3 separate regions of the Homo sapiens genome follow, and all the other regions are linked to region 1. Evidence: fine-mapped expression QTL. A gene starts in region 1. Each other region holds a variant in brackets. All regions are shown on one strand. Distances are between the middles of the regions. Region 1 holds the start of RBPJ (recombination signal binding protein for immunoglobulin kappa J region). Region 2 overlaps LINC02357 (long intergenic non-protein coding RNA 2357). Region 3 holds the start of LOC124900690 (a long non-coding RNA gene).

Region 1 (10,230 bases):
TTAACTTGTCAATGTTACAGGGGTTTTAACTGGCAGGGGTTTTAAGTGCCAGAGACAGAATTGGAACCCAGTTCAGATTAAACACTAAATGTGAGCTCATAACCCTCCACTCTGTTGCCTCTCTTAATGAACGCTGCTAGGGGGAGCCATTGAAAGGTTTTTAGATTAAGCAGTGATCAGATTTGCTCTTTAGAAAGACTGCTCTGCTACATGTAGAAGCTGGATAAAGGTGGTGACTCTAGAAGCAGAAAGAGGCTGTCAGTACGTCATAGTAAACCAGGTGAGAAATGACAGCATGAACTTCGGCAGTGAGGATAAGGGAAACAAATTCAAGAGATTTTTTAGAAGGAAAAATGATCAGTTCTCAGTAATTAAATGTAAAGGCTGGTGAGAGAGGAATTAGGAATCGTGGCTTTGGGAACCAAACGGAATATGGTATCATCTACCAAGAACAGAGAAGCAACAGGTTTCATTCAGTCAATACGTATCTACAGAGTGCTCCTCAAATGCAAAACACTTTTCTAAGGCCAAGAGTCAAATCTGAAATTATAGTCATGGTTATTAGAATTTATTCTTAAGAGCAAATAACAAAGCACTAAAAAATATAAGGCATATTTAAAATTAATCACTGCTATTAACAGACTTGGCTTAGAGTCCAGTGAAAGCATGTTGTACTACCATTTGTTAAATATTACTACATGCAGGCCAGGCATGGTGGCTCACCCCTGTAATCCCAGTACTTTGGGAGGCCAAGGTGGGCAGATCCCTTGAGGTCAGGAGTTTGAGATCAGCCTGGCCAACATGGCGAAACCCCATGTCTACTAAAAATACAAAATTAGCCAGGTATGATGGTGTACGCTGGTAATCCCAGCTACTCAGGAGGCTAAGGCACGAGGATCGCTTGAACCCAGGAGGTGGAGGTTGCAGTGAGCTAAGATTGTGCCACTGAACTCCAGCCTGGCCACAGAGTGAGACCCTGTCTCAAAAAATAAAATAAAATAAATAAATAGAATATTGCTACATGCAGAAAACAAAAGAGGAAAGGCATCCCATAATTTTATAATGTTATTACATTTGAGTTTGACAGAACTTCAATCTCTTACACCACACACACACACACACACACACACTCACACACGACACATCACCCTGTAATTTGTTTTATTTGTCCCTTTCCCTATAAGTTTATGGGGGGCAGGAATAAAGGTATCTGTTTTATTACCCATATTATAATACATATTTGGGATTTTAAAAAATCCCACTATCGCTACTGTGTCTTGCCAAGAACTTAAAAACCTCCTATTTGACTTCCTATAAAATATGACCTACTTCACATTAGCTTATTTCAGTAACAATTCCTAGACCTTCCCCACAGTTTTCATCCAAGGATGCTCTCTGCGAATCTTAAGGCACAGCAATCCTGTGCAGATGTGGCAAGTTATTATAATTCCCATTTTACTACATAGTTAGGAAACTGGCCCAGGGGAAGTAGAGTAACTTGGAAATAATCACAAAGCCAGATGCCAAAAATAACAACTTTTAGTCAATCCATGAGAAAATACTGCCCCTAGTTGAGATAACATGAAATTTAGTATTAGGAGGAAGCAAAATGCAAAATAATGCTTTAAAGCCAAGTCCTGGGTCTTATTTCTAAAAATGAACAGAAGAATGAGATGTATAATAACTTTCAAACGAAACAATTTTTTCCTAATGCCTTACCCATCAAGGGTGCCAAAGGTTATTTAATGAATTACATCTGGCAAGAATGGCCTGTCAACCAAACCAATTTTGATCTTACCCACTTAAAAAAAACATTGATAGAAATCTGTTGGTATAGGACAACAGATAACTTTTTAACAAACCTAACTGCTTAAAATCTAATGCCTACAAGTGTGTATTAGTACAGATTTGAAAATATTGCAAGTCTCCTGTTTTCTGAAAATATACTCACAGATCCATCAGCAATATGCATGGATAATAAAATTTAAAGCTTTAACAGTTAATACTCAGAATGAAAGTTCTCCAGCCACAACGCATCCAGATTTCGAAATATGCTGCTGTTATAATTTAATTAAAAGCAGTTTTATTTCACCAATCATGTAAGTAAAAGTATTACACGATTTAGAAAGAAAAACGCAACTCAAATGGTAAAAGCGCTTTTATCATGTCTGTGTAATCATTCTTACAGGTACAAGTCAGAGCAAAATACCTTCCATTACTACACAGTATTTACACTTTGCTCCCAGTCAGAGAACCAGTGAGCTCAAGATTTTACCTTCAAAACAATGATTATGTACAAGAACAAGTAAGGGAGACATAAGATTATTGGTAAAACCCACTCAAGCGACCCAGACTGCAGATTTTCACAAAAAAACTTATGTATCAATCATGAAAACATGGTTTTCCATTAATTAAAACTCAAACTACTAATTCTAATCACAGCCAGAAAAAAAAGTATTTTCCAATGCTCCAATACTCGTTAGAGTAGATCTCGTATGTCCCCTATCAACAACACTTCACTATTGTAGAACTTCAGTTTGTAAATGAAATGACACTCCAAATGATTTTATGGGTAACATACCTTCTAAAAGTAGAGATCAACCAGTAGAAAAAAAACAAACTCTTGAAGAATACCTTCAGCATAGTAATCCTGGTAAATATAATAACTCTTATTCCTAGCACCCAGAATAACTCAAGTCATTAGAATACATCACACCACACCCCCCACCCCCATTCACACAACCCCAAGCTTTTAGCATTACCAAAACAATAAGAACTCGAAACACTTCAAGGGTTCTTTAACACTAGGAAGTGTCTTTAAAATAATCTCACTACAGGCTATTACGTGTGTGTGTGTATATATATATATAATATACATATTATACGTATACTTTTTAACTGCATTTGATTAATATCTTCCACAAAGATCTTAGAAGCAGTATTCATCGACCAGAAACTGCACTCTTCGGTGCTGTCCTCATTTCAACCCCAATGATGGGACAGAAGGGTTGTCACGCATCTACAGGGCAGCAAAAAGCACATAACTGTAAACTATCTAATGATTAAGAAAAAATAAAACATTTATATAAAATTCCCAAGCGGAATGCCTCTCCTTTTCCTTATGAGGCAGAAGTTACTGATAAATTCTAAATCCAGATTTCTAGAAAATGCTGAAATTCTCCGCCCCAACACTCACAAGTTTTTAACATGGAAATTCACTCAACTCCTACTCACACGCCAAATGAATATCCATTGTGGCTATCTGAAACTATTCTCAAACACTAACAGAAAAACACATATATACATCTTGAGCCTCCTTCTAACCGTCCTACGATACCCTCCAATCATCCTCAGGCAGCCTAGATTGCAAAGCTTCGACAGACAGCTGCCCTTGGCCTACGCCGTCAGGAACCAGGAGGGGGGCGGGGGCCGGGGGGCGCAAGAACCACCAAGAGACCAGATCTTTTTCCAAGGCTACTGTTTCCAAGCAAAACAACCCACGGCACTAAAAAGACGGCGATGAAAATTGGAGACGCTTTAATCCCGAGAGAAAGGGGTGGCGATAGGGGGGCGGGAGGGTACAAGAAATCCCGAGAAAAAGAGGTGCGGAGGAGAAAACTAAGTATCCCATGCATCTTTCAGACCCACAAAACAACAAACCGTAGAGTCTTGTGTGCACTTAGAAGCAGCAGATGGAGTCCCCGGGGCTGAGACAGTTCAGCAGACGTACACCGTGGGTTGTGGATAAATCAACCGATGACGGGAGAGGAAGGGGGTGCCGAGAGAATAAGCCCGTGGATGGGGGAGACAAAGCCTCGGGGGGTGATCCAGGACCATACAGAAAGGTGAGAGGGGACCCACAGGAGAAAGACAATGGAAGAACAATTAAGGCAGAAATCTGGTGCCCGGGCTGTGGCAGGTCACTGGGCTAACGACAAGAGTGTGGCACAACAAAGGGGCACGGGAGGAAGGACAGCGGAGGGGAGGAGATGGAGAGGGGATGCGGGACGCCACGGGTCGGACAAAGCGCCCAAGGCGGCGAAACAAAGGGCCGGGGGTAGAGAGTCGCAGCGGGTAGCGGTGAAAGACAAAGCGCCCGGGGCCGGGGGCACTAGCGGGGCGAAGCGGCGACAACGGCCGCGAGGAACAAAGATGCACGGGGCCCCCAGGCAGAGCCCGCTGGAGGCGCGCGGGAGGCACGGCGCCCGAGGGCCCCGCGCGCCCTGCCGCACTCACGCCCGCACCCGCCGGCCTCGCCGCCGCCGCCGCCGCCCGCCCTCACGCGCTGGAGCCTGAGCCACGGCAGCGCAGAGCGGCAGCGCACGGCCACACGCCGCCGCCGCCGCGCTCGGCGCACGCGACGCCGCCCCCGCGGGCCCCCGAACGCCAAGCGCGCCGCGGCCCCCGAACCCGCTGCCCGCCGTGAGCTGCCAGACGCCCGCAACTTTCCCGGTTCCCGGCGCTCCGATTCCCTCAGACTTACCCTGTCACAACAGGCGCCATCTTCCACAAACTCTCGCCAAAACTCCAACCCTCGCGAGATTCCCCCCGACGCCTTCCCTGGTCCCTCTCCCCCGCCCCTTCCCTTTTTCCTCACTCCTCGATTCCACCCAGCCCCCGCGCTCCCTTTCCCCTCGCCGCCGCCGCGAAGAGCCAGACGCCTCGCGCCGCCCGCAGAGTAGGGGATCCTGCTCGCTGCCTTCCCTGGAAACCTACCCAGGCGATGGAGCATGCGCAGGCGGCTCCTCCGCGGGCGAGCCCTCCGTGTGGTCCATGGGGAGCGCTCCGGTTATCCGGGTTTTAGGACGCGCTTTGAGGGACGTACGTGGAGACTGAGGAAAACCGGAGGGGATTACTACGGGGACGAGGAATGGAGGGGTCAGGAGGCGGGGCCGAGGAGAAGGGAGGAGGGGTCCTGGGAAAATGGGCTGCGTTTCACAGGCCTAGATGAAACACCTCCTCAATGGGTGTTTTCCAAGCGGCTTCCCGCTCACTCTGGGTTCCCAGCTATTTTCATTCATTCAAACGTTCCCTGGGCGCCTCCTTTATGCTAATCTCGGCGTTTGGTGCAGGAGCGCCAGAGATGTCTGGGGTTCGGGCAAGTGACACGTCGGGGACTGTCTTCATTCATTACACCCCCCCATGCTAATGAGGAGGCCCTTCCAGAGCTCCTCAAGCGGAAAACTTTTGCAGTTGAGCTCTCTCGCCTTAGCGTTCTCCTTGGGTGTGAAATGAGGTCAAGCCAAGGCCTCTAGCAAAGACACCCCTAATGGCCACCTCGCAGACACACGCCAGAGCGCGGAGTAGTTCTCTCCAGAAGGGAAAACTGCCTTGGAATTGAGAGCCACATTCTCCCACCTCCGAGTCTGCCCAGAGGACCCGATCAAAGCTCTTGCCGCTCGCGTGCTGCATGGCCTCTCTAAGACCCCATCGCAGCCACCACCGTGTGTGAGCCCAGGTGTGTGTTGAGACCACTACTGCACAGGGAACCGGGCCACCCGAGGGCCTGGCACAGCCGAGGACGCTGCCGGCTGCCCGAATCGCGCTTCAGGCGGCCTGATCCCGGAAGCCCCCGGGCAAACCTGGCCCCACCGGGCATGGAACAGCAGGGTGAAGGGCCCGAATCCCGCCCCCTCCTCCTACCTGCAGCCCCCCATCTTTCCCCTCCTTTGCTCTTTCCTTTCCTAGAGATTCCCAGATCCAGCACTGCCTCCCGCAGGGAGCCCCAAAACCCGGAGAACTGGAATTCGCCGCCCGAAACCTGTTGAAGGCGCTGCAGGATTGGCGCGGCCCGCGCGAGCGGCACTGCGCATGTACCCAATGCGGGCAGTCCAGTCTCACGCTACACCTCCTTCCCACCGCCTTCCACTACTCGGCTCAGACACAACACGGCCGTGGGAAATTTCCTAAACCTCGCGAGAACGTGCCCCTGTTGCCTAAGCTTTCGCCCCAAATCTCGCGGAGCCAAGGCAGGACAGGTGTTTGCCTAGACCAGCTCCGGGCGCCGTTCGTGCAGCGCGTGCCCGGGAGGCGGGCGGCGGGCGGCGGGCGCGGGCGGGGTGGGAAGGGAGCGGCTTGCCGCGGAGGCGGGGCGGGAAGGCGCGTGGCTGGGAGCACGGGGCGGAGGGCGGCGGGGGAGGAGACCCGCGTCTCGCACACAACACGCACACGCCCTGTGACGCTGGATGGAAGACGAGGGGTGGGGAGCCTCGAACGGAGGAAGGGGAAGCCAGGAGGTTGGAAGTCGCTGCCGGTACGGAGAGTGAGAGGTCAGGCTCTAGGGCAGGAGGAGCCCCAGGCCGATCTCCCGGGGAGGTTTCCTGTCGCCCTCCACAAGCCTGGTACTTTCCTAAAACGTGTTAGACACCGCGCCCCCCGCCTCCGGGAGCTGACAGACAGCCTCCAGAGTCGGGTTTGAGTCATGCCTTGAGTCACCTAGTCTGGCCACTACTTCGCTTACTTTGAAACAAGTTCTGATTCCTTAGCTACTCTACTTTAGCAATTGGTTTCTTTTTTTTTTTTTTTTTTTTTTTTTGAGACGGAGTCTTGCTCTGTCGCCTAGGCTAGAGTGCAGTGGCGCGATCTCGGCTCACTGCAAGCTCCGCCTCCTGGATTCACGCCATTCTCCTGCCGCAGCCTCCTGAGTAGCTGGAACTACAGGCGCCCGCCACCACGCCCGGCTAATTTTTTCTATTTTTTAGTAGACGGAGTTTTACCATGTTAGTCAGGATGGTCTCGATCTCCTGACCTCGTGATCCGCCCGCCTCGGCCTCCCAAAGTGCTGGGATTACACGTGTGAGCCACCGCGCCTGGCAGCAATTGGTTGTTTTCTTTCTAATCTACCCGCTGGCCCTGTGAGCTGGGTAGAAAAATAAATAAATAAATAAATAAACAGCTCTGCGCTCTCGCCTTGTTGCCTTGTATAGATTCTTGCTCCCGTTTAAGGACACGATTTTTAAAATTTCTTGTCAGTCTCTTCTTAGCCTTTTGAAGTAATCTTACAAATCAGTTTCTGTTTTTTCCTCCCACTAATATGGCTTTTTTGCTTTCCGTCACCTTTCCGTATTTTTATTGCAATATTCCATTTTACGTATGGCTGCGGCAGGTGCTATAGTGACTACTGTTTTAAATGCAGCCCTTCCTTTTGGATCATTCATCCAATGAGTTCCTGATTACGTAAATTCTTCAATCAGCCACGTTTCAGATTGGCCCTGATGTGGTTTCTATACCAGCCTTAGCCTGGCATTATCTAGGAACCAGTGTCTTCCTGCTCACGTCACAGCCCCGCAAATGTAGAGTTGAATTGAATTTTGATATTTGGAGGACAGTGAGTTCTCTAATAGGAAACCCTGGTTTTTAAGTTGTTTTCAAGGTTTTAGGGGTGTGTGTGTGTGTGTGTGTGCGTGTGTGTGTGTTTGTGTTTGCCTATTGATTATATACACAAAAAAACAGACTTAAAACCATTTGGTGCAATATCTCAGTGCAAGTCTGGCTTGGAACAGGATAGCTCAGGAGGAGGACAAAGCCCTTGGGGCACATATTCCTTGGAGCTGTCATCCCAAGAAGGTATTTCAGTCATGGCCTAGTCCAGACCACTGATCTAATTTGGAATCATGGCCTTCTGAGAGCCCCAGCGACCTTGGGAAGCCATGGTAACCACAAAGGGAATAACAGCTCCCCCTTTTTGCCCTAAAACATGCTCCATCTGCAGCCCTCCCCCATCTCAGGAAAGGACAACTCCATTCTTCCACTTATGTCAAGAACCTTGGAGTCCTTGCCTCCTTTCTCACACCCAAGATACAATTGGACGGAAAATCCTATTGGCTCCACCTTCAGAATATACTCACATTCCAAATACTGTCACACCTCTTTAGCTACTAGCCTAGTCTAACCCATCTTATTTCCCACCTGGTTTAAGGAAGTTCCCTAACTGGTCCTCCCTTCTTCCGTTCTTGTCTTCCCGCAGTCTGTGCTAATAGAGCATTCTCAGTGGCCCTCTAGAACTCCTCCATGACTTTCCCATTTCACTATGAGGACTTAGACAATCTTGCCTACTGCCAAACCCCCCCTGATCTATCTGCCTTCACCTCCTCCTCTACCTCTCACTCTGTGGGCTCTCACCAGTTGCCTTCCTTACTGTTCCTGGGATGCCCCAAGCACACTTTCAGCTCCAAGCCTTTGCTTTTTCCACTACCTGGAATGCTCTTCCCTCATATACCTTATAGCTCATTCCCTCACTCCTTTCTTGTCTTTGCCTGATGTCACCTCCTCAGGGAGGCCTTCCCTGACACCCTTCCCAAGAGGGACTCCCATACTCCTTATCCCCCTTTCTGCTTGATTTTGTCCATGGCACCTATCATTAACTAACATAACATTTATCATACTTGTGTGTTGTGTTTACTATCTGCCTCCTTCCATTATAATGTAATATTAATAAGGGCAAGGACTTTTGTCTAGTTTGTTCATTATTCAAGCCTTAGCTGCTGGAACAATGCCTGCTGTATTATATTTGTAGAATGAATGGGGTGTCTTCCACTTTAGGGCAGAGTAAAAATGATTCTGAAGACTAAGCCTCCTAGGGTTCAAAACAATATTAGGACTAGACTAGCAGTGAGTACTAGCCTGCCTAGGGAGGAGAAAAAGGCATATGGAGCAACCACCTGTGTTGGTTTTTTGCAAAAAAAAAAAAAAAAAAAAAAAAAAAGTCGTCTGGGTTAGACCAGTAGATGAGGCTGCACTTAAGAGTTTCCTTTACTCTCCATTTTAGAACTTCAGGAAAAAAACAACAAAAACACCACTAGCCGGATATGTGTGTGTGTGTATATATATATATACACAATATGTGTATATATATATATGTGTATATATATATATATCAATATGTGTATATATATATCAATATGTGTATATATATATCAATATGTGTATATATATATTATATATATGAATGTATATATATGAATGTGTATATATATGAATATATACATGAATATATATATGAATATATATATGAATATATATGAATATATATGAATATATATATGAATATGTATATATGAATGTATATATGAATGTATATATGAATGTATATGAATGTATATATGAATGTATATATGAATGTATATATATGAATGTATATATGAATGTATATATATGAATGTATATATGAATGTATATATGAATATGTATATATGAATGTATATATATGAATATGTATATATGAATGTATATATGTGTATATGTATATATGAATGTGTATATATATGAATATATATATATATATATGTTGCGGGAAGTCAGGGACCCTGAACGGAGAGACTGGTTGGAGCCACTGCAGAGGAAGATAAATTGTGAAGATTTCATGGACATTTATCACTTCCCTAATAATACTCTTATAATTTCTTATGCCTGTCTTACTTTAATCTCTTAATCCTGTTATCTTCATAAGCTGAGGATGTACGTCACCTCAGGACCACTGTTGTACAAATTGATTGTAAAACGTGTGTTTGAACAATATGAAATCAGTGCACCTTGAAAAAGAACGGAATAACAACGATTTTAGGGAACAAGGGAAGACAACCATAAGGTCTGACTGCCTGCGGGGTGGGGCAAAAAAAGCCATATTTTTCTTCTTGCAGAGAGCCTATAAATGGACTTGCAAGTAGGAGAGATATTACTAAATTTTTTTCCTAGCAAGGAATATTGATAATCAATACTCTGGGAAAAGAATTGCATTCCTGGGGGGAGGTCTATAAACGGCTGCTCTGGGAGTGTCTGTCTTATGTGGTTGAAATAAGGACTCAAATATGCCCTGGTCCCCTGCAGTACCCTCAGGCTTATTAGGGTGGGGAAAAAATCCTGCCCTGGTAAATTTGAGGTCAGACCAGTTCTCTGCTCTCGAACCCTGTTTTCTGTTGTTTAAGATGTTTATCAAGAGAATACGTGCACAGCTGAACATAAACCCTCATCAGTAATTCTAATTTTGCCCTCTGCCTTGTGATCTTTGCTTTTGTCCTTGCCCTGTTTCCTCAGAAGCATGTGATCTTTGTTCTCCTTTTTGCCGTTTGAAGTATGTGATCTTTGTGAACTACTCCCTGTTCGTACACCCCCTCCCTTTTTGAAATCCTTAATAAAAACTTGCTGGTTTTGCAGCTCAGGTGGACATCACAGACCTACCAATATGTGATGTCACCCCCGGCGGCCCAGTTGTAAAATTCCTCTCTTTGTACT
Region 2 (10,230 bases), 240 kb after region 1:
CAATGGATTCAGTGCCTCCCTTCACCCCAAGACAATGCTAACATGAGGCTTTCTGGCTCAACTGAAAGCTTGAAAAAATTTCAGTGCAGAGAGGGAAAAATGAAGCTCAGTGTCAGCCATGACCAACCATACCCCAAGTCCTTGGGTCAAATCTCATCCCACCCAATTCCTACTGGTCTTCCTTCACCTTCAGGCTCCCAGCACATTGCCAGGTGTGCTCCTATGCCGTCTTTACCTCCACACCGGGGTTTGCATTGACTGTGTTTCTCTTTCCCTGAATGCCGTGCCCCCACAGCCTCTTCCCTCTGTCTACCAGTGGAAGCCCCAAATCCATTAACATCGGTACAATCCTCACTCTTTTACTTTGGTAGACACAGAGCTTGAGTGTTTCCTTGTCTAGGCTTTCCCATCCCAGAACGGAATTTCCTTTTGCACAAATAAAAGCTCAATTAAGAACGTTTTCTCCACCAGAAAGCGGGGCCCCCACAGACTAATTTGGGTTTCCATTTTTAGCAGCACAAAGAATTGGCAGAAGCTTTGAAATTGCAGTTCTTCCTCAAAGACGCCCAAGAGCCCAGATCCAATTCTGAGGCAGAATCAAAGTTCACCTACTGAATTTCCCTCCTCTTACTTCCATGACAGGGAAAGCTTTCCCCAAGCCCTCAGAGAACTTGATCTTTGTAAAGTAGAAGATGCAATTCTTCTCCCAGTAATCAGCACTGGGTGACTTTGATCAAGAAGGTTAACTGGTCTGAGTGTTGGACTCCCTAGCTATAAAATAGAATTAATAATACCTTTTCGCCATAGGGTTATTGTAAGAATATTTAAAGAAAGAACTTAAGAAAAGTGTCTGGCTTGGTGTGTGGCACACAAAATACGTTCATTACTTCTTCCTTTCATTGTATGATTAAGCAATAGTTTGCTTTGTTGCCTTATACAAGGATTATAATATAGTTCTAAGGATTATCTGAAGTTCAGAAACTGGTTAGCGAAGATACACTGAGCTCTCAACAAAGTCAACATGCACTGCATTATAGAGTGTTCTCTTGGCTCCATATCTGCACATGCCTGTAATTATTTATTTGAGATGAATTCCCAGATATGGAATTCGTGGTCAAGAGGTACATACATTTTTAGGACTGCCGCTATACATTGCCAAATTGCCTGACAGAAAGTCTGTGCCACAGACTTCTTACCTCCCCCACAGAATTGTGTCCGAGAGCCTATTTCTTGAAATCTTGAGTTTTTCCTCAAAATGTATTAGCTTGATGGGAGAAGAGCGGTTGTGGAATTGTTTCTCAAACCTGGAAAACAAGCATCCCACAAACCCAACTCACTTATTTTAAAAATGAAGATCCTAAGACTCAGAGAGATTAAGTGACTTGGCGAATTCATCTAATTAGTAAGACAGCCAAAATCCATACCCCATGTTTCCTAATGCTGGAATTCTTTCCATTATACCACTCCAGAGAGAGAGTGTTAGCCCTGAGGTGAAACCACTCAGGGACTGCTTAATAACAAAGTTCAATTAGACCAGAGGGAAGGCGCTGTAGAGAAAAGTGCTAATGCAGAGAGCTTTAATTAGTGTCTGGCTAATTCATCCTCAGATAAGTACAGTGTAGTGTTTGTGTTAGCACCACCTACTGGTGAAAATTTAGACTTGTACAGGATTCCTTTTATGGAGTTGCAGGTAGAATGGGAAAAATCTCCGGAAGATTTGGACTGCTTTAAACTGTCTTATTCTAGAAAGAAGTCGGTAGAAAAATGAGTAGGTATGGAGTCATTGAGTCATGAACCATAAGGACTTCAACTTCTGTGGTCTCAGAATTGCTGTGAATGAAGTTCCAATTTCCTGCAGCAACAAAGTCAGTTTCCTGTTCTTCCTATCGGCTATGTAGAATGTAAACCTCTTCATTTTTCTATAACCTAATTTCTAGTTTAAGTCTACATTCTTCTAGTGGCAGGAAACTTAATATATAGTGTCTTCCTGGTAAAAATCACTCACTTCAGTGTTTATGCAGTCATGCCGGTTTCAGTCACTCAATTCAAAATTTCATGCCCTTCCCTTCTTCTTGGGGTTGCTGGTAAGATCCTGGAAATATAGGATGGTGTAGGTGTAGAAAACGGGGTTCTGGGGGACTGAGAGAGGGATGGGGTGGTATGGTCCACAGGCATCCTTAGCCTGAAGCAGACCTGGTCTTTGGCCATCAGCACCTATGCGTAGTGGCACCCAGGGGCCATACTTGGAGGCTGCCAAGTCCTCCATTGTTAGAAAGCCCTCCATCTCCACTGTATCTTCTTGTCCCAACCTCAAGCTCTGCTCAGGTCTGCGGCCCTCTTTTGGCCATTTTGTGCCCATTTTGGAGGCAGGAGCAAGGGAAACTTTAGGATGCTCTCTTACATGGGCCTGGCTGTGACAGATCGGGGGCTTTCCTGGGGCCTCCCCACTGCTTTGCTCTGTTGCGCTCTCTTCTCCACTATGGCCAGCATACAACGCAGGGGATGGCAAACTATGCCCTGTAAAGGGCCAGACAGCACGTATTTTAGATGAGTACTCCACTCTGTTACTGTAGCACAAACGCTGCCACAGGCAATAGATAAATGAACGGGCATGGCTGTGTTCCAATAAAACTTCACTTACAAAAGGAAGTGGCATGCTGCATTTGGCCCTCAGGGCCCTTGATGATCTCGGTATGTATCTGTGCTGTTCTCCCCTAACTCCAGGCGTCTCCCGTAGATCAGGGCACACATTCTCAGGTCTTGGCATTACTAAACCTATCTTGATGATTTATCACCCGCTACCCCACTTCAGAAAATCACAAGACGAGGGAGCAGGCAAAGTGCAGGACCCCTCAGGGCTATGTCAGCATCTTCTTCTTCCCTTCTCCTCTTTCCCTAGCTAGAGCAACCATCCTTTCCTCTCTTTCCATTCTCTTGTTTGTAGTATAAACTTTTATGTCGTGCTTACGTGGGGCTTAGCCTTTAGATTTGATCACACTTTTCTATCACAAACCTTGGCTATGGAGGACCCACCCAATCTCTGTAATAAGAGTCAAGAGCCTAAATGATTCAAAGTCAAGAACTTGACATTTGTTCTGTGTTCTTCATAATCCCTCCCTTCCCTGTGAGTAGTGGATACCTGGAGTGACTGGGAATATGGTCCCATGATGTCCTCTAACCCTTGCTAAGTTCTGGGCTTTGACCAAGCCTCAGCCATACTCTGAGGGCAGCTGGATTCAGGTAAGTTTGCTGGTCTGGTATTTGTTCCTCTGTCTTTATCCTATGAGGAAATAAGAAGAGTAAGGTTAACTTGACATTGTTAAAAAAACTGCTCACTCACATGAATAGAAATGAATCCTTTTGGGGCAAAACCATTTAGAACAGAGCGTTTCAAACTGCAAATTGCAACCCTTTAGGGTAGGGGTAGGCAATTTTTTTTCAGTAAGGGCACAAATTGTAAATATTTTAGGTTTTGTGGGCTGTACTCAACACGCAACTCTCAACTCGCAACTGCTCAACTCTGCCACTGTAGTGCGAAAATGATCAAAGACAATGGGTAAACAAGTGAGCGTGTCTGTCCTGTAATTAAACTATTTATGAATACTAAAATGTGAATTTCATATAATTTTCACCAGTCATGAGATATCATTCTCCTTTTGATTTCTTCCAACCACTTAAAAATGTAGAAAATTTTTAATCTTATCTTTTTAACTTTTATCTTATCTTTTTTATTTTATTTTTTGAGACAGAGTCTCAAAAAGTTGTATGGAGTGCAGTGGTGTGATCTCAATTCACTGCAACCTCTGCCTCCTAGGTTCAAGCAACTCCTGCCTCAGCCTGCAGAGTAGCTGGGACTATAGGCATGTGCCACCATGCCCAGCTAATTTTTCTCTTTTTACTAGAGACAAGGTTTCGCCATGTTGGCCAGGCTGGTCTCAAACTCCTGGTTTTAATGCAATCTGCCCACCTTCGCCTCCCAAAGTGCTGGGATTGCAAGTGTGAGCCACCGCGCCTGGCCAAAAATGTAAAAAACATTTTTAGCTTACAAGCCTTACAAAAAGAGGTGGTTAGTTAGATTTAGCCCTGGGCCATAATTTGTTGACCCCTCAATTAAGGGGGTCATGAAATCAGTTAAGTGATACTGGACAAAGAATTTTTTTAAAAAGAAATAAGATAAAGTAGAATGAAGGAGACAAAATATCAGAATATACTGTACACAAAAAAGGTTTTGTAAAATGTTGATTTCAGTTAATACACATTTGTGTGTATTGCACTGTGATGCAAAATGTATTTCTTGCTGTGGAATGTGGCTGGAAAAAGTTTGAAAATCAATTTGGAGAAACATTTCTTTCAGTGTGACATTTTTATTTCCAAAGAGTTATGCCTTTGTTTATTCCACACACCTTAAGATTTGATGTTAGTGTTGCCAGATAAAATATAGGACACTCAGTTAAACTTGAATTTCAGATTAAAAATAAATAAATTTTTAGTATAACTATGTTCCATGCAATGTTTGGGAAATACTCATACTAAAAATTACTCATTTCTTATCTGAAATTCAAATTTGACTGAGTATCCTGTCTGTTTTTCTAAACCAGACAATCCTATGTGGTATATTACAATTGGTTATTATTATTATTGTAATGATCTTAAAACTCAGGTAGGGGCAGCCCAGTTCAGCTGGTAACTTAAGGGAAAATTGACATTTAACAGTTCTTCCTATATGCCAGGTTTTGTGCCCTCTCACAATTGCAGAAGCACTAGCCCTCACTACAGCCCTCTAGGAAAGGTACAGCTTTGTTATCTTCACTTTACAAGTGAGGAAACTGAGGCACAGTCTGACCTCAACAGGGGATTTAACAGTATAAGAGGGATGGTTCCAAGTCCTTGCCACACCACCAGGCTGTTGGGAAAGGCAAGCCCTGTGAAAGGGCCACCAGCTGTTCTTGGTCCTGGTGGTGCAGTCAGGAAGGCGGAGGGGACAGTGGGAGTGGCAATGAGGGTGCATTGTCCATGGAGTATTGAGCCCAGTGTAAAGATGATCGAAGTCATTTTATATTCACTATGCAATGCCAGTGATAACCTGTCCCCTCCCCATCGAGGCTGACTTCCCCACCCGCTTGACATGCCACTATTTGGCATATGATTGGTGCTCAGAAAATGTTACTTTCCTCTTTCTTCCTGCTCTTCTTTTCTCTACCTTGGCAAATGAGTTGCAAACCACTTGCCCATTCTGATTAGTAATGACAGCCTGGACTGCTGGATTGGGAAGGATTCTGGAGTTGAGTCTTTGCTCAGAGTAAATGAGTGCTGTGCTCTGGAGGCTCATCTGCTAGAGAGAGGTAAGAAGTGGGTACATAGATAGATACCACCTGCCACCCTATAGTTAAACGCTTTAACCTACAGAGCACAAGCAAGCATGCTGAGCAACGATTCCCCGCAAGCCCAAAACTCCTTCCCACTTAAGACAAAGTAAGAGAGGAAGA[G/C]GAAGAGAGTTTCTATCCATCACATCACCTTGTCCCACCCCCTCTAACACACGCAACTCCTGAGTGACCTGGAGCTAGATGCTGGAACACAGATTGGAGAGGCACAGGCAGGCTGGACAGGCAGGCAGGGCACAGGTTTGCTGGGCACCAAAGGCCAGAGGCAAGTTAATATCTCCCCTCCCACTGCCCTTCGCTGCCTGAAGCTTTTGCACTCGGCTCACCATAGTGTGACCAGGTGCCTCTGTTCACATGCGCCTTTTTGGAAGCTGTGGGGAGGAATGCCCTTCCTTGACTCAGTTATGTGCATGGCTGGAGGCAGGGCTACAAAAATAGACTGAAGGCAAGACTTTCCACTCTTCCATTTCCCCAAAAGTAGTTTCTTCTTGGACACAAACTGCCATCTTCTCTAAATTCCCAAATTGAGTAACCACTTGGAAGGCTTTCTTGTTTTTTTTTTTTTTCTTTTTTTTTTTCAAATGATTTTTCCAGCTGTAATTTTTCTTCAGTATGGAATTTTGCTCTTTCTGCCTTGAACTTCATTATAAATCCAAGTTTAAAATCAGAACTATTATAAATAGCCTTTGTGTACAGCAAGCGTTTGGGCATGCCATGTTTTAACCTTGAAGTAGCCTCCCATTTAGGTGGCTCTATAATTCCTCAGCTTGTCCGTTTATCCTCTGCCCCCCCAAATTGGAGGTAATATTAGAAAGGCCATGTGCGGGCACACCTTCAGATGAAAGGAGTTGATATATTTAAGCGCATGTTTAAGGTCAGAGAGAAGGAATGTTCAAAAGCATAGAAAGGTATTCGGATAGTTTCTTGGATATTTAATACCTTTGGCAACACCTTATTTTCTTGAATTAGGGTCTTGTGGGTCTAGAAATGGCTTCCAAAACTATTTAGTCAATTTCCTCTTGGGGAGCGGTGGTAGAAAGGGGCAATCCTTCCTCTTACAGCTCAGGCCAACTTTCTATTTTGTACAGAGGTGAGGATATTAGTCATGATATGAAGGAGAATCCACGACATTTTGATAATTCTGGCATATGTACATCCGAAAATTGCAAATTTAATTTTTCTTAGCATACCAGAGAGACGAGTCTTCAAGGAAATGGGTCTGACTCTTGAGCTTTGTTTGGTGTTGCTTTGGCCAAATGATTTGGTGAGTCACTTGTTATGGCTTTCCCTCGGGGTTCAGTGTTGTTTTTCACTGTGCCCTTAAAACCAACTTCTAGGCCACTTAGGTGTCTTGACCAGACTTTCTGGGGCCATATTAATTCCAACCTCAGAAATTTTGTTCCTGCTTAGATATCCCCAGGTTTTCTCTCCCCTACATCTATCCTTCTACACAATCCAGATTTCAAGGTCCCTTACAGATCTCAGGTCGGTCAAGCCATCCTTGACTTGTGAAAAACCCTGCGATTTCTCCCATCTTTGAATGCCTTTTGGGATCATCATCAATATCTAATCTTTGCACTTGATCTCTAAGAATCATCTACATTGTTTAAATTTTTCTTAAGGGAAAAGGCTATGTCTTACGCTTTTTCTATATTTTCCAAAACACCTGCCCCATGTTGGGCATGCCCCAATCAATACTGGATTGATAAATGATTGAGAAGTCTTCACTAGGCCTACAGTTCATGCATCTATAAACATGGAGCTTCCCTTTATCTTTGTAGGGTTTGACCAGAATTTGCCCCCAGCCTTACCCGATTACAGGAAAAATAGTGTTCAAAGTAGGAAGCTAGTTCTGTGAATCCACATTTCCTTTGTTGGGCAATGATCTAGCTGCATGTGGCATAACATTTGCTGACACACAGTGTACTCACTCTTTTTTTTTTTTTTGGTCAGAAAAAGACTATTTCCATTCAAGTCACAAGTGGTGAAGGGTGGTGTGGTTTCTCTGTGACCTTAGGCGAGTCATTTCACCACCTTCAGCTGCAGTTTCCTCTTCTACAATTTTCCACCTCTAAGGTTGGCAGTTCTATGGTTTGGGGGCTGCTCAATGCTTCTAAGATCTCATCTAACAGATTTGTTTGCATGACAATGGGAAGGATTCTAAGGTTCAACTTCATTCTCCGCTCTGGATCTAATGTGGATGGATGGGGCCAGCAATGCTAGTAATTATTGGCTGGGACCTTCTCTCTGTATTAACCAGAGCTCCTTATATCATTCTAGCTAGCAGCTCAGAGCCTACCTTGAGGATGGCGGCATTAATCTGTCTGCTTAGGGACATCTAGACATTCTGCTAATCGTTCTTGCTACCACTATGGATATCCCTGATAGTGCAGAATCTTCTGCCTGTGGTTCTGTAAATGGGCCAAGTTAATTCTTCTGTTAGAGCCTTTGGAAAATTCAAGACAGGTACCAGTGACTAATAAAGTGACTAATAAAGGCTATATTAAATGCCCTTTCTCTTTCTTTTTTGTGGTTGATGCAACAACAAGATTGTCTAGTCTTGTTAGCCATAATTTTATAAGTTGTTGGCTTTGGTGATATATTTCTGCTTTATCATTTTAGGTGTCACATCTTGAGGACAGATGTCTTGTGTAAGACATGGGCTGATTTTCACTCGACAAAAATTGGCCCTTGTGTTAGAGGGAGAATAGAGGAAACCACTCTATTATTAGACTTTGAAATGAATGTTTATGGCCCTATAAAGTGACTAGCTAGTCTGCTGTCTGCCATGATTGAAGAGAGATCTAAAGCTAGGTCTAATTAAGAAATATCTATTATCTGATTGCTGTTGTGTTTAATAAGCTATTTAAAACAGAGAAATTATTTTGTGGAATTTAAAAAAGTGAGTTGATTGGATGCATCGGATTTGGACTTCTAAAGGATTTGCAGCATTTTTTCCTAAAAAGGCATTGTTCAGTGGGAAGTGACAGTGGGATTATTGCTCCTTGTTAAGTAAATTCAGCATGTGATTTATGTGCTTATATTTCCATGCACATTCAAGGAACCAATTCTCCTTTGAAATTTCCAAAATAGTGATGCCAAAAGAAAAAAAAAGAAGAAAGCGAGGAAGGAAAATCAGAGTTTCAGAAGAAAGTAAGCTGTTTGGATTAGAACTGAAACCACATGGGGTCCAGAAATCTTGTAATATTCTGCCCATTAAAAGTTCTTCTGCAAATAAATGTGCACATGCAAAAGTGGGGGTCGGAAAGCCATCCATTTGGATTCAGCAGCATGTCAGCCTAATTATACTAGACAATGCTGAGCTCAGTAATTCCACTTTTGATCCATTGCTGTGTGAAGTTCATTATTATCTGTTTCGAATTATTGTTCATTTCAAGAGCCGTACAATGAAAAAGCATGTCAAGACTGTGAAAGAGCCCTTGGCCTTCCCCGAAAGCTTTGTGAAACATTTCTTTGGAAACATTTCTGCTGAGATGGTGCATTGGCCGTGAGTGGGTGTAGGGGATGGGCGTCTGTGCTTCCCCTTTTCACATTTGTTTACCTTAAATACATCTCCATGGAAACAAGACCTGCTTCTGAGTTGACTTGAGGGTTGTCTGTAAGAGGAATGAATAGCAAAATATAGATAGCTAAAATTCTCATATAATCCAAAAAGGATCAGCCAAAGTGAGGGACACTAAGTGTCATTGAGCCCTCTTCAAGACTGATGATTTTAAATAAGGTTTCTCATGTAACGCTGAGAGGTAGACGGTATTGTCTCTGTTTTACAGATGAAGACCTTTAACTTCTAAATGTTTACTCAAATAGGAAGCGACAAACCCAGATTTGAACCCAGAACTGTCTGATTCTGATGCCCACGCTCTTTCTATAAAACCACATTGCCAGTCGTTTCACCCTTTCCTCCCACCTGCCCCAAGCATTTTCCAGAATTGTATAAAAATGGGCTACCCTTGATGTTTCCGTCTTTTGGGTGATTAAGTGCTTGGGAGGGAAAAGGTACTATGAAGAAAGAAAAACAAGCAGTCTGCATCATCTAAATGTGAAATCACCAACAGCAGCATAAACAATTGTCCCCTGTACTTCCGGAATCCCAGGCCAGGCCAGAAAAACCTCAATTTGCTAACAAAGCCTCAAGTAGGAAGGCCTCCATTTACCTAATTGTTGTCTTTGCTGCACTTTGAGGAGAAAACAAGACAGTGGACTGGAAAGAGCCCCAGAGATATGAGTTCAAATCTTGACCCCACCACTTATGACTTGCGGGACCCCCAGCCTCAAATGGGTAACTTCTCTGAGCCTCCAGTGTCAACAGGGTCTCTTGATGAGGCAGGATCTGGCCCAGGGTTTCCTGGTGGCCCATGGCAATAGGCAATACCCTTTACATATTGACTTAAGTCCACAATCTCTGTCTCAGATATATTAAAAATTTAGTTTGCAGACAGAGTCAACAAGGGTTGGGAAAGAACTCACACTGAGGAAATGGTCCTGTGTGGGGAGGTGGGCTCCAAAGCCAGGCCTGAGTGTTCAGGAGGCAGAATGGCCCTGGTACTATAATGTGGCTGGTACTGGATCTCAGCCTTACCCAGAATTTAAACAGGTTTGCCATAAATGCCATTGCACTAGAATTCTGGAACTGGTTGTGGGACCCCCTCACATCGACTGCAACTGATTGTAACATGAAAAGAGCACTTTCCTCTTTTTTTTTTTTTTTTGAGACAGGGTCTCACTCTGTCACCCAGGCTGGAGCTCAATGGCATCATCTTGGCTCACTGAAGCCTCAGCCACCAGGGTCCAATTGGTTTTCCTGCCTCAGCCTCCCAAGTAGCTGGGA
Region 3 (10,230 bases), 46 kb after region 1:
CCTTTAATCCCAACGCTTTGGGAGGCCGAGGCGGGTGGATCACGAGGTCAAGAGATTGAGACCATCGTGGCCAACATGATGAAAGCCCGTCTCTAAAAATACAAAAATTAGCTGGGCGTGGTGGGGCACGCTTGTAGTCCCAACTACTCGGGGGGCTGAGACAGGAGAATTGCTTGAACCTGGGAGGCGGAGGTTGCAGTGAGCTGAGATTGTGCCACTGCACTCCAGCGTGGTGACAGAGCAAGACTCTGTCTCCAAAAAAAAGAAAATATCAAACAGCAGCCAGTGCAGCAAAACTTGCCCTTTTCTATAAGTGGCTAGGCTCACAGCATCATCCTCTCTTCTGCCCAACTGGATTGAATTTACTGGTATTCATTTGAAACTACCACCTGTAACAGACATTTTCTTCAAACAAATAGTTAACATTTATTGAGTACATACTGTGGGCCAGGCACTGTGCTGGGTGCTTCATGTGTATTATCTTATTTAGTTCTCAACATGATCCTATGAAATAGCTACTGTTATTTTCTCCACTTTAGAAAGGAGGAAATTGTGCAGAGAAAGCTAAGATCATACAGGAGCACAACCACCCTGCTCCCACGGCAGCACCCTTAGCCACCAGGCACTGTGGCCTCCTTAGAACCTTATATATCCATCCCATAGCCAAACTTCCTGATGCCTGCCAGATATCATGTAAGTGGAACTCCCACCAAAAGCTATTTTTAAAACGGACTAATCATTGTTACTTCAAATCTGCTAGAAACTGACAAGAGTTGAGCTTAATTTTCTCCTTGTAAAGCCCCTGTCAGGAAAATTATAAAGACTTGTAAAGGGGCAAAAGAGATTTTTGAGTGTTATTTCAGTAGAGTCCCTGAGTGTCTTAGGAGATAGTCTGGGAATTATCTGCTTCTATAGGAATAGAAACTTTTGATTATCTTGGATTGATTAGTCTATTTCATAATCCTATAGGTGTAGAAGTTAAGTTGTAGAAAACCGATAGCAATGCAGATGTGTCCTGTCCATAGTTATTCAAATGATTCTTGTTTTGAATATGCACATCAATTTTATCTGATAGTAATGCAATTGATTTCTACCCAGTAAATGACCCAAAACACTACATATTTTTTCTATCAGATATCAGCCAATTTTGTACCTATTAGTAAATTCATTGCAACATTCCAGATTGCCTACATATATATCTGTTTTTCAAATTGTCCTTTGAATTGGTTTTAACATTTTTTCTGGATCCCTCATAAATTAATAAATTAAAATCTTTGGCATAGGTTCACTTTATATCTTCATGACAGACGTGACTTTACTTTTTTGAAAATGTTATGTAGCATCCTATCTTTAGATGAAAAATTGAAGATGAATATGAAGTATATGTTATAAAGTAACTGGGAAGCAAAGGCAGCACAGAGAAGGTAAAGGAGCAGAATCAGCGAAGAGTTCCTAATCAGAATGTCAATGCCACGGCATTTGCGTTCATACTACTATATACTGTCCTTGGCACATAATAGGTGCTCAATAAATATTCAGCAAAGGAGCTAGCTTAGAAGGCAAGACACACACACAAACACACACATATACATGAGGAATAAGCAGCAACTTGGAAAAAAGGCATTGATTGACACATGTGAAAATAACTTGTAAAGATTAGATGGACACTGAATCGAATATTTTAAAGCCCGATAGAAACCTATGGGAGAGAGTAATACATTTAAAAACACTAATCATGCTTGCAAAATTCTTCCTCTGGACTTTTGGGGCTAGAGAGGGTCAGGAGAGCATTTCTCTCATGAAAAAATTTGAGCCCATATGAGCATACTAAGTCTCTCCCTCTGACTAACACTTGCCATCTGTTCCTCCATCACTGCCATCTTAGTTTTAAATCCTGCAAAGGAAATGAATAGGCCCCTGCCACTCCTTCGAGATTGTGTGTCCAACACACCATCCACTCACAAATCAGGGCTTTCCTGGGCACCTATAGCTTGGCCGGGTTGGCACTTTCCCTACAAAACTCCCCAGGATAACTCACCAAGGCCATGCATTGAAGAACCCAGCCCTGTGGCGCTCAGGCTTGCAGCCTCGTCCTGGTCCCAAGAGAAGAGAGAGGCTTGTATCTGGTGGGGGTGAGGAGCCAGGTGGAGATTCCTAAATCATAAACTAAGGAATTCCACAAATGCTGAATTTTTCATGAGTGCTAGCATTACAGAGAGGGATCAGAACCAAATTTTTTCAAGTTCAGCTTTTTTGACTTTTGACTTTTTTTTTTTTTTTGAACAAACAGGGTCTTGCTCTGTCGCCCAGGCTGAAATGCAGTGGTGTGATCACAGCTCACTGAAGCCTTGAACTCGTGGGCTCAAGCATCTTCCTGCTTCAGCCTTCTAAGTCTTCATACCAGCATGCCTGGCTAATTTAAATTTTTTTTTTTTTTTTTAGAAATGGGGTCTCACTATGTTGCCCAGGCTGGTCCCCACTCCTGGCCTCAAGCAATCCTCCCACCTCAGCTTCAAAAAGCTCTGGGATTATAGGCGAGCGTGATTCTCCTGCACCCAGCCAGGTTTTTCACTTACAGAAAATTCTATGACTAGTTTATTCCGTGCCAGCAAAGAGAATATCATCTAGCCAGAATAAATACATAAATACATTTAAATCTGATTTCACAGGTTGAAGAAGAAAGGCAGTTTTTGACTCCGCCCTTGCTACAAAGGAAACAGACAGAAAGAAGAATTTCTTCAAAGATACAATTTGAGTTTGCTTATTTAAGGTTGCTTTCTTAACATAGTATGTGCTCAGTTAATATCAGACAGTCACTCCTGTAGCTCTAATGTCATGGTGAAGAAAAGAGAAGGATTTTTTTTCTTTCTCATTTAAATGATTCAAAGTGTTATACATATAGCATTTAATCAGCAAGCCCATGGAAACAGAAGAGTAATCAACAGGGACAGAATTTCACTGTGTTGACAGCAATGGAAGAACAAGCCTGAGGCCCAAGGCCATGTTAGATTTTCCATAGATTGCATTTCAATAGATTTCTGTGGATTGTGTTTTTTTCAAGGAGGCGATTTCATTGGGACATGTAGCATGCAACGTCACAACCACCAAGCCTTGCCCAAGCAAAAACCCAGATCTCATCTAACATCCACAATTTCTGAAGCTTTGTTTTAGTTACCATAGGGAAGTGTTTTTAAAATCAGAGACCTTAAAAGTAGAAACTTAAAATTTACAACAGCTTTATGTATTTATTTTATGTTTTCTTTTTCTTTTTTTTTTTTTTTTGAGATGGAGTCTTGCTCTGTCACCCAAGCTGGATTGCATGCACAATCTTGGCCCACTGCAGCCTCCGCCTCCTGGGTTCAAGTGATTCTCCTGCCTCAGCCTCCCAAGTAGCTGGGACTACAGGCATGTGCCACCATGCTCGGCTAATTTTTGTATTTTTAGTAGAGATGCGGTTTCACCATGTTGGCCAGGCTGGTCTCAAACTCCTGACCTGAAGTGATCCACCCACCTAGGCCTCCCAAAGTGCTGGGATTACAGGCGTGAGCCACCACGCCCAGCCTACAATAGCTTTAAAGCTGTTAGCATGTCACTAAGTATCCTTTTTCAGCCATAAAAACTATGATTTGGGCCGGTTGCGGTGGCTCACGCCTGTAATCCCAGCACTTTGGGAGGCCGAGGTGGGCAGAGAGGTCAAGAGATCCAGACCATCCCGGCCAAGATGGTGAAACCCCGTCTCTACTAAAAATACAAAAAAGTAGCTGGGTGTGGTGGTGCACGCCTGTAGTCCCAGCTACTCGCAAGGCTGAGGCAGGAAAATCGCTTGAACCCAAGAGGCGGAGGTTGCAGTGAGCCGAGATCGCGCTACTGCACTCCAGCCTGGCAACAGTACGAGACTCCGTCTCAAAAAACAAAACAAAACAAAACAAAACAAAAAACCTATGATTTGGAGAGAAGTTGACAGTTGTGTTATGTCAAGATACCTCTTTCCTGGATGGTTTTTCTCCGGCGACTGACTTGACATGTTGCTTAGCCACACCCGAGTCACATAGTCCCCCTGGGTTTTAATTTCTTTTTCCGGTGTTAGTAATACTTGTTCCCTTCCTGCCCCACTGGCCTGTTGGGAGGCATAAGTAGACTCATAGCATGCTAGGTCCTCCCTTTTCATTATCTTCCTAGGAAAACAGTTACCCATAGGAGCCCAGAACCTTGCCTAGAGTCACCCTGCCAGCAAGTGGCAGAGCTGCGATTTGAATCTGGGGCTTATGCATCTGATTCTGCTGAGGATGTCAAATTACCAGGCTTTGGTCTAAGCAGAAGTCAGGGGACAGCAGTGAAAAGAGCACGGTTCCACACCTTGATGCCGTCTCTCACTTTCCCTCTGTGTGACCTTGGGTAAGTTATGCAAATGCTCTGTGCCTCAGTTGCTTCATTTATGAAATAGGGACGATGACATCTCACTAGTCTATTACAAATATTAGTTGACAATGTGGCCATCTCCCTATCCCATGAATGCTATCTTCCTTTATGGCTTCTAATCCCTTCCTCTAGCCCTGGTACTTTAGAAACTTTTTTCCTTTCCTTTCTTTTTTCTTTTCTTTTCTTTTTTTGTTTTTTTGAGACGGTGTCTCGCTCTGTCACCCAGGCTAGGATCATGCAATGGCGTGATCTCAGCTCACTGCAACCTCCGCCTCCTGGGTTCAAGCAATTCTCCTGCTTTAGCCTTCCGAATAGCTGGGATCACAAATGTGCACCACCACCCCTGGCTAATTTTTGTGTTTTCGATAGACGAGGTTTTGCCATGTTGAGCAGGCTGGTCTTGAACTCCTGGTCTCATGTGATCCACCAGCCTCAGCCTCCCGAAGAGCTGGGATTACAGGTGTGAGCCACTGTGCCCAGCCTTCTTCTTCTTTTTTTTTGAGAGACAGGGTCTCGCTCGCTCTATCACCCAGGCTGGAATGCGGTGGCATGACCACAGCTCACTGCCACCTCAAACTTCTGGGCTCAAGGGATCCTCCCATTCAGCCTCCTGAGTAGCTGAGAACATAGGCACATGCCACTGTGCCAGGCTAATTTTTAAAAAAATTTATGTAGAGACAGGGTTTTGCCGTGTTGCCCATGCTGGTCTTGAACTCCTGGGATCACGCAGTCCTCCTGCCTCAGCCTCTTGGACTGCTGTGATTACAAGGGTGAGCCACCGTGTCTGGCCAGAAACATTTTTCTTAATCAAAAATCATACCTTCTCTTATCTTCCTTAGGGTTTCAGAAAGTCTCAAATCCATTCATTATTTAACAAATACTTATCGAGCGCCTACTATGTATGTGGCACTGTTGTGGGTGCTCGGGATGCAGGGTGTGGGTGTGAGCATGGGGCAGATGGCAGAAGATAGGCAGAAAATCAAATGAAGCAGTAAAATATAACACATGTACAAAGTATTTTAGGAGGTGAGAAGTGTTATGGAGAACAATAAAGCAGAGAAGTAGAAAAGCATATATCTGGGGTTGAGGCCACACCTGTGGTTGGGAAAGACTTCTCTGACAAGGTGACATCTGAGCAAAGACCCATAGGCAGCAGGGGAATGGAAGAAGAACAAACTTTTTTTCCTCTACACCAGAGAAGACACAGACACCTCCAGGAGAAGTAAAGCCGGGCCTAATCGGATTCCCAGGAAGATGCAAATGGCGATGACTGTGTCTTGGCTGCGTTCAGCTTCAAAGAAGAAGAGGGAAGAACCGTTGGCATACCAAGCACTGGAAGGGTGGCGGCAAGGGGCACCGGGAATGGCTGTGGTTACCAGTGATGCAAACAGACCTCCCACTTCCCCACTTCTTCCTGAAAG[T/C]GGAGGAGGGGAGGGAGGCAGTTGAGTGAAAAGAGCTCCCAGGCCCCGCTGCTAGGTTCTTCTGCAGAAAGATTAGTACCCCTAGGTGCAAGTGGGATACAGAGTGGTTCTTCCCTGAGCCATTGGAATCTGTGCCCTCCTCTTAGATTCCAGAATGGCCTCGGACATAGATACTGCTCTCTGCTGCCAGTTTCCTTCCAGGCAGCTAGAGCTGGAAAGATCTTCATCCTAGCTGCCTGCCAAGGCCGGGAGGCCCGCTCCACGCTCCCTCGGAGGCATCTCGCCCTCTGGGAGGTCGCCAGGCAGACAGCTTTGGAAAACTGGGAGCTTGGAAAAAAGTCATTTGAATTTTATAAAGTGGTAACTACTGTGGGGCTTTATGTAATAAAACCTAAATGCCATTTTCCTCCTAAAGCTCTCGGGTGAGGTAACAGTTCTCTTTAATGTCAGCTCAGGAAGTTTTACCCAAGAAAAAGGAGGTGGAGGGGTGGTGTTTGCCAAATCAGGAAATGTGCCTTAACTGACTAGGAACTTAAAAAAGAGGCTGAGGCAATGAGAGGAAGGGAAGTGGGAGACAGCAAAAGGTAGTCCTGCAAATGAGTAAACTTGGGACACACAGGCCAATTTTTATTTCAAGTCAATTTTGTTGGTTGAAACTTCCTTTTTATGGTCTGTTGTTTTGAAAAACTTGGAGTGAAAGAAAATCTCAAACTTAATACAGTCTTCATGAAAAAAAAGCACCTAAGGTATTAACAGGGATTCCAGCGTCTGTAATGTAAACATTCACCTTAGGCATGGAAACTCTTGCTTGAGAGTTGCAGAGTTCCCTGTTTCACACCACAAATCTAACCACAGCTTTCTGCGCAATGTATGGTTTTAAACAATGAGTACATTATGCAGATCCAATAGGACTTTCCTCCATCCCATCACCCCCTTCCTGGTGTTAGACCTACCTCATGGTTTCAAATATGGTTGGTGCACCCCAAGGACAGAGAAAAGTAAGCCCTATTTTTAAGCAGGTGTTCAAGAACCAGGAAGAATGAATCACTTTGGAAAAAATGAAGACAAAATGCAAGTTCATCTGCAACCAAATCTGTAGTTTTGTTTTTTATTTATTTTTTATTTATTTTATTTATTGTAGAGATAGACAGGGTCTTGCTCTGTCACCCAGGCTGGAGTGAAGTGGCATGATCACAGCTCATTGCAGCCTTGAACTTCTGGTCTCAAGTGATCCTCCCACTTCAGCCTCCCAAGTAGCTGGGACTACAGGCATGTGTCACCACACCTGACTAATTAAAAAAAAATTTTTTTTGTACAGATGGAGTCTCACTACATTGCCCAGGCTGGTCTCCAACTCCCAGCCTAAAGTGATCCTCTTGCCTTGATCTCCCAAATGTTGGGCTTATGGGTGTGAGCCACAATGCCCGGCCTGTAGTGAGTTTTAGAAAATAAAAATGACGTCTTCATTTTTTCTTTCTTGCAAATATCTCAGTTTTATCTAGAAGATCTTTTTCTTTCCTGCATATATCTAGGTTTTATCTAGACCTTTGACTTCTGTCAAAGGTGTGAAATTTAAACCTTTGGAATTTTATCCAAAGCATTTTTGCCCTAAAAGCTTTTTTCCCTATTGATTCTTATACCTAATATTCCCAACCCAGTCCTGGTTAAGGCTGCCCTAGTCAGGAGACATTTTTAAGAGACAAAGCAAGTGACCCAAGGCACTGGCCCTACAGAAATCTGGAAGCTGGTACAAGCATGTATGCACCCATGTGCCTATATACCTGTGCCCACTGTGCACATGTTCAAGCACGCACGTGTCTCTGTATGTGGTTGCTCACACGTGTGCATGCACGTGTGTGTGTGGCAGTGACACTGTGCAGAATGAATGAAAGGACATCATAGTTTGTATGTTGAAGACTCATGGGTCTTTCAAAGTTGATAAATCTGGCTTTCACATAGAAGGCGAGGTCTTAGATGAAGATAAAGGAATTCAGGAAATATCATCCCCAAAATGACACTTTGGTATGCTGATTACTTTGAACTGAGGACACCTGGGACATAGCATATGCAGGCAGAGGCTTTCTCAGAACTCCCTATCTGCCTACTGATGGATCCTCTAAAAAGAACTCAGTTGTCATGAATCCCCTCCTGGGGAATTTCATCAAGCAGAGAAGATTAACTGGGATCACAGGAGAGGAGACTGGAGTTCGACACCATAGCCAGACAGACTTTGCCACAGGCTGTCACCTATTCTTCTGAGGTCCTGTTCATCTTTCCCCCAAATCAATCTCTCCTGAGTTACCTACATCTCCCCTCCCCTCTCCTTTATGAAGAGGGAATATAAGACTCTAGATCCACCAGGTTTTGAGGTACAGTAGTCCCCTCCTTATCTATGGGTGATAAGTCTCAAGCCCTCCAGTGGATGCCTGAAATCAAAGATGGCACCAAACCTTATAGTCTGATGTTTCCTATACATGCATACCTATGATAAAGTTTAATTTATAAATTAGGCTGGGCAAGGTGGCATGCATCTGTAGTTCCAGCTACTTGGGAGGCTGGGCCAGGAGGAGAGCTTGAGCCTGGGAGTTTGAGACCAGCCTGGGAAACATAGTGAGACCCCATCTCTAAAGCAAATTTAAAAAATAAATTAGGCACAGAAAGAGATTTAACAATAATTAATAACAAAATAGAATAATTAGAATAATATACTGTATAAAAGTTGTATGAATATGGTTTTTTTCTCCTCAAAATGTCTTATTGTACTGTACTCACCTATTTTCGAACCATGGTTGACCGTGGGTGACTGAGACAGAGGAAAGCAAAACTGTGGATAAGGGTGGGGGGGAGGCGGATTTTATTCATGTTTCTTTCATGTGACACCCCTGTGCATGTAATAAATTTGTATATCTTGTCTCTTGTCAAGCTGTCTACTGTCAGTTTACATCATAGACTCAATTATCAAACCTTCAGAGGGTAGAGGGAAAGTTCTCCCTCCCCTTCCAAAAAACCCTCCATGCTAACTGGACCTGGGTAGATCAAGGGGGATGAAGTACACCTAGGAAGGACTACATGGATGGTTTTCAAGCTCTAGTGCCTGCGATACTTAATAAAAACTTTTGGAGGTTCCCAACCCCAAAGATTCTGAGTCAGTTGTCCAGGGTGGAGACAGGAGTTGGCATTGTAACCAGTGTACTACCGATTTCTCCTTCCTTCCTTCCTTCCTTCCTCCCTCCTTTCATCTTTCTTTCCTTTTCTTTTCTTTCTTTCTTTCTTTCTTCTTTCTTTCTTTCTTTCTTTCTTTCTTTCTTTCTTTCTTTCTTTCTTTCTTTCTTTCTTTCTTTCTTTCTTTCTTTCTTTCTCTTGCTCTCTCCCTCCCTCCCCTCCCCTCTCCTCCCCTCCCCTCCTCCCCTCCCCTTCCCTTCCCTTTCCTTTCCGACAAAATCTTGCTCTGTTGCCCAGGCTGGAGAGCAGTGGTACGATTTCTTGGCTCACTGCAACCTCTGCCTCCCTGGTCAAGCGATTCTCTTGCCTCAGCCTCCCAAGTAGCTGGAATTACAGGTGACTGCCACCACACCTGGGTAAGCTTTGTATTGTTAGTAGAGGTGAGGTTTTGCCATGTTGCCCGGACTGGTCTTGAACTCCTTACCTCAGGTGATCCGCCTGCCTCAGCCTCCCAAAGTGCTGAGATTACAGGTCTGAGCCGCCGTGCCTGGCCCCATACCAGCAATTTCCCATGGCGAGGAACACCAGTTTACCCTATAAGCCAGATTCTTCCACAATGTTTCATTAACTCTTTCCTAAGTGTGTTGCTTTTTACTGAGGCCTGGGTCCTTTCTAAAAATAAATGCTAGTTTGGCCTCAAAGTAATTTGGGTTGCCAGTTTTGACTCTTTTCTCTGTCATTCTACCCCTCTCCCTCCCCCTTCACTCCCTTCCCTCAAATTATTCTGCCCATACCCGCTCACCGCTTCCTCCTTTTCCTTAGTTTTAGTTCAAGAAGCCATTTAATGAGCTTCCACTAAAGCTTAAAGGGCTGAGGCTGTAAGAATGAATTGAGACAGAGTCCCTGTCTTTGAGCAGGTGAAGTCCGGTGGGGGAGGCAGGTAGATAAAACAGATCATTTCAGCAGGGAGAGCCACACATTAAAATAACCAAGGTGACGCCTGGCGAGGTGGCTCACACCTTTAATCCCAGCACTTTGGGAGGCCGAGGCTGGCCGATCATTTGAGGTCAGGAGATCGAGACCAGCCTGGCCAACATGGTGAAACCCTGTCTCTACTAAAAATACAAAAATTAGTTGGGCATGGTGGTGCATGCCTGTAATATCAGCTACTCGGGAGGCTGAGGCAGGAGAATCACTTGAACCCAGGAGGCAGAGGTTGCAGTGAGCC

Evidence for each region. PIP is the estimated chance that this variant, and not a neighbour inherited with it, causes the effect.
Region 2: its variant is fine-mapped to the expression of RBPJ in whole blood (INTERVAL, PIP 0.97).
Region 3: its variant is fine-mapped to the expression of RBPJ in whole blood (TOPMed, PIP above 0.99).

Annotation. Positions count from the first base shown.
Region 1 is chr4:26,315,302-26,325,531 of GRCh38, reverse strand. RBPJ (recombination signal binding protein for immunoglobulin kappa J region) reads right to left here and starts at 4,518. Exons shown (of 11, transcript NM_015874.6): 1 at 4,484-4,518. The coding sequence starts at 4,503. RefSeq lists enhancers at 3,141-4,062, 5,295-5,344, 6,435-6,484 and silencers at 4,175-4,274, 4,345-4,474, 5,945-6,214.
Region 2 is chr4:26,073,500-26,083,729 of GRCh38, reverse strand. LINC02357 (long intergenic non-protein coding RNA 2357) reads right to left here. Exons shown (of 3, transcript XR_925506.3): 2 at 3,140-3,280. Among named protein-coding and RNA genes, the nearest start is that of LINC02357, 7.9 kb to the right of the region's middle. RefSeq lists enhancers at 2,351-2,530, 8,719-8,798. The variant G/C (reference allele first, on the strand shown) is at 5,487.
Region 3 is chr4:26,269,325-26,279,554 of GRCh38, reverse strand. LOC124900690 (a long non-coding RNA gene) reads left to right here and starts at 4,130. Exons shown (of 4, transcript XR_007058094.1): 1 at 4,130-4,395. It also overlaps a transcript of RBPJ not described here. The variant T/C (reference allele first, on the strand shown) is at 5,841.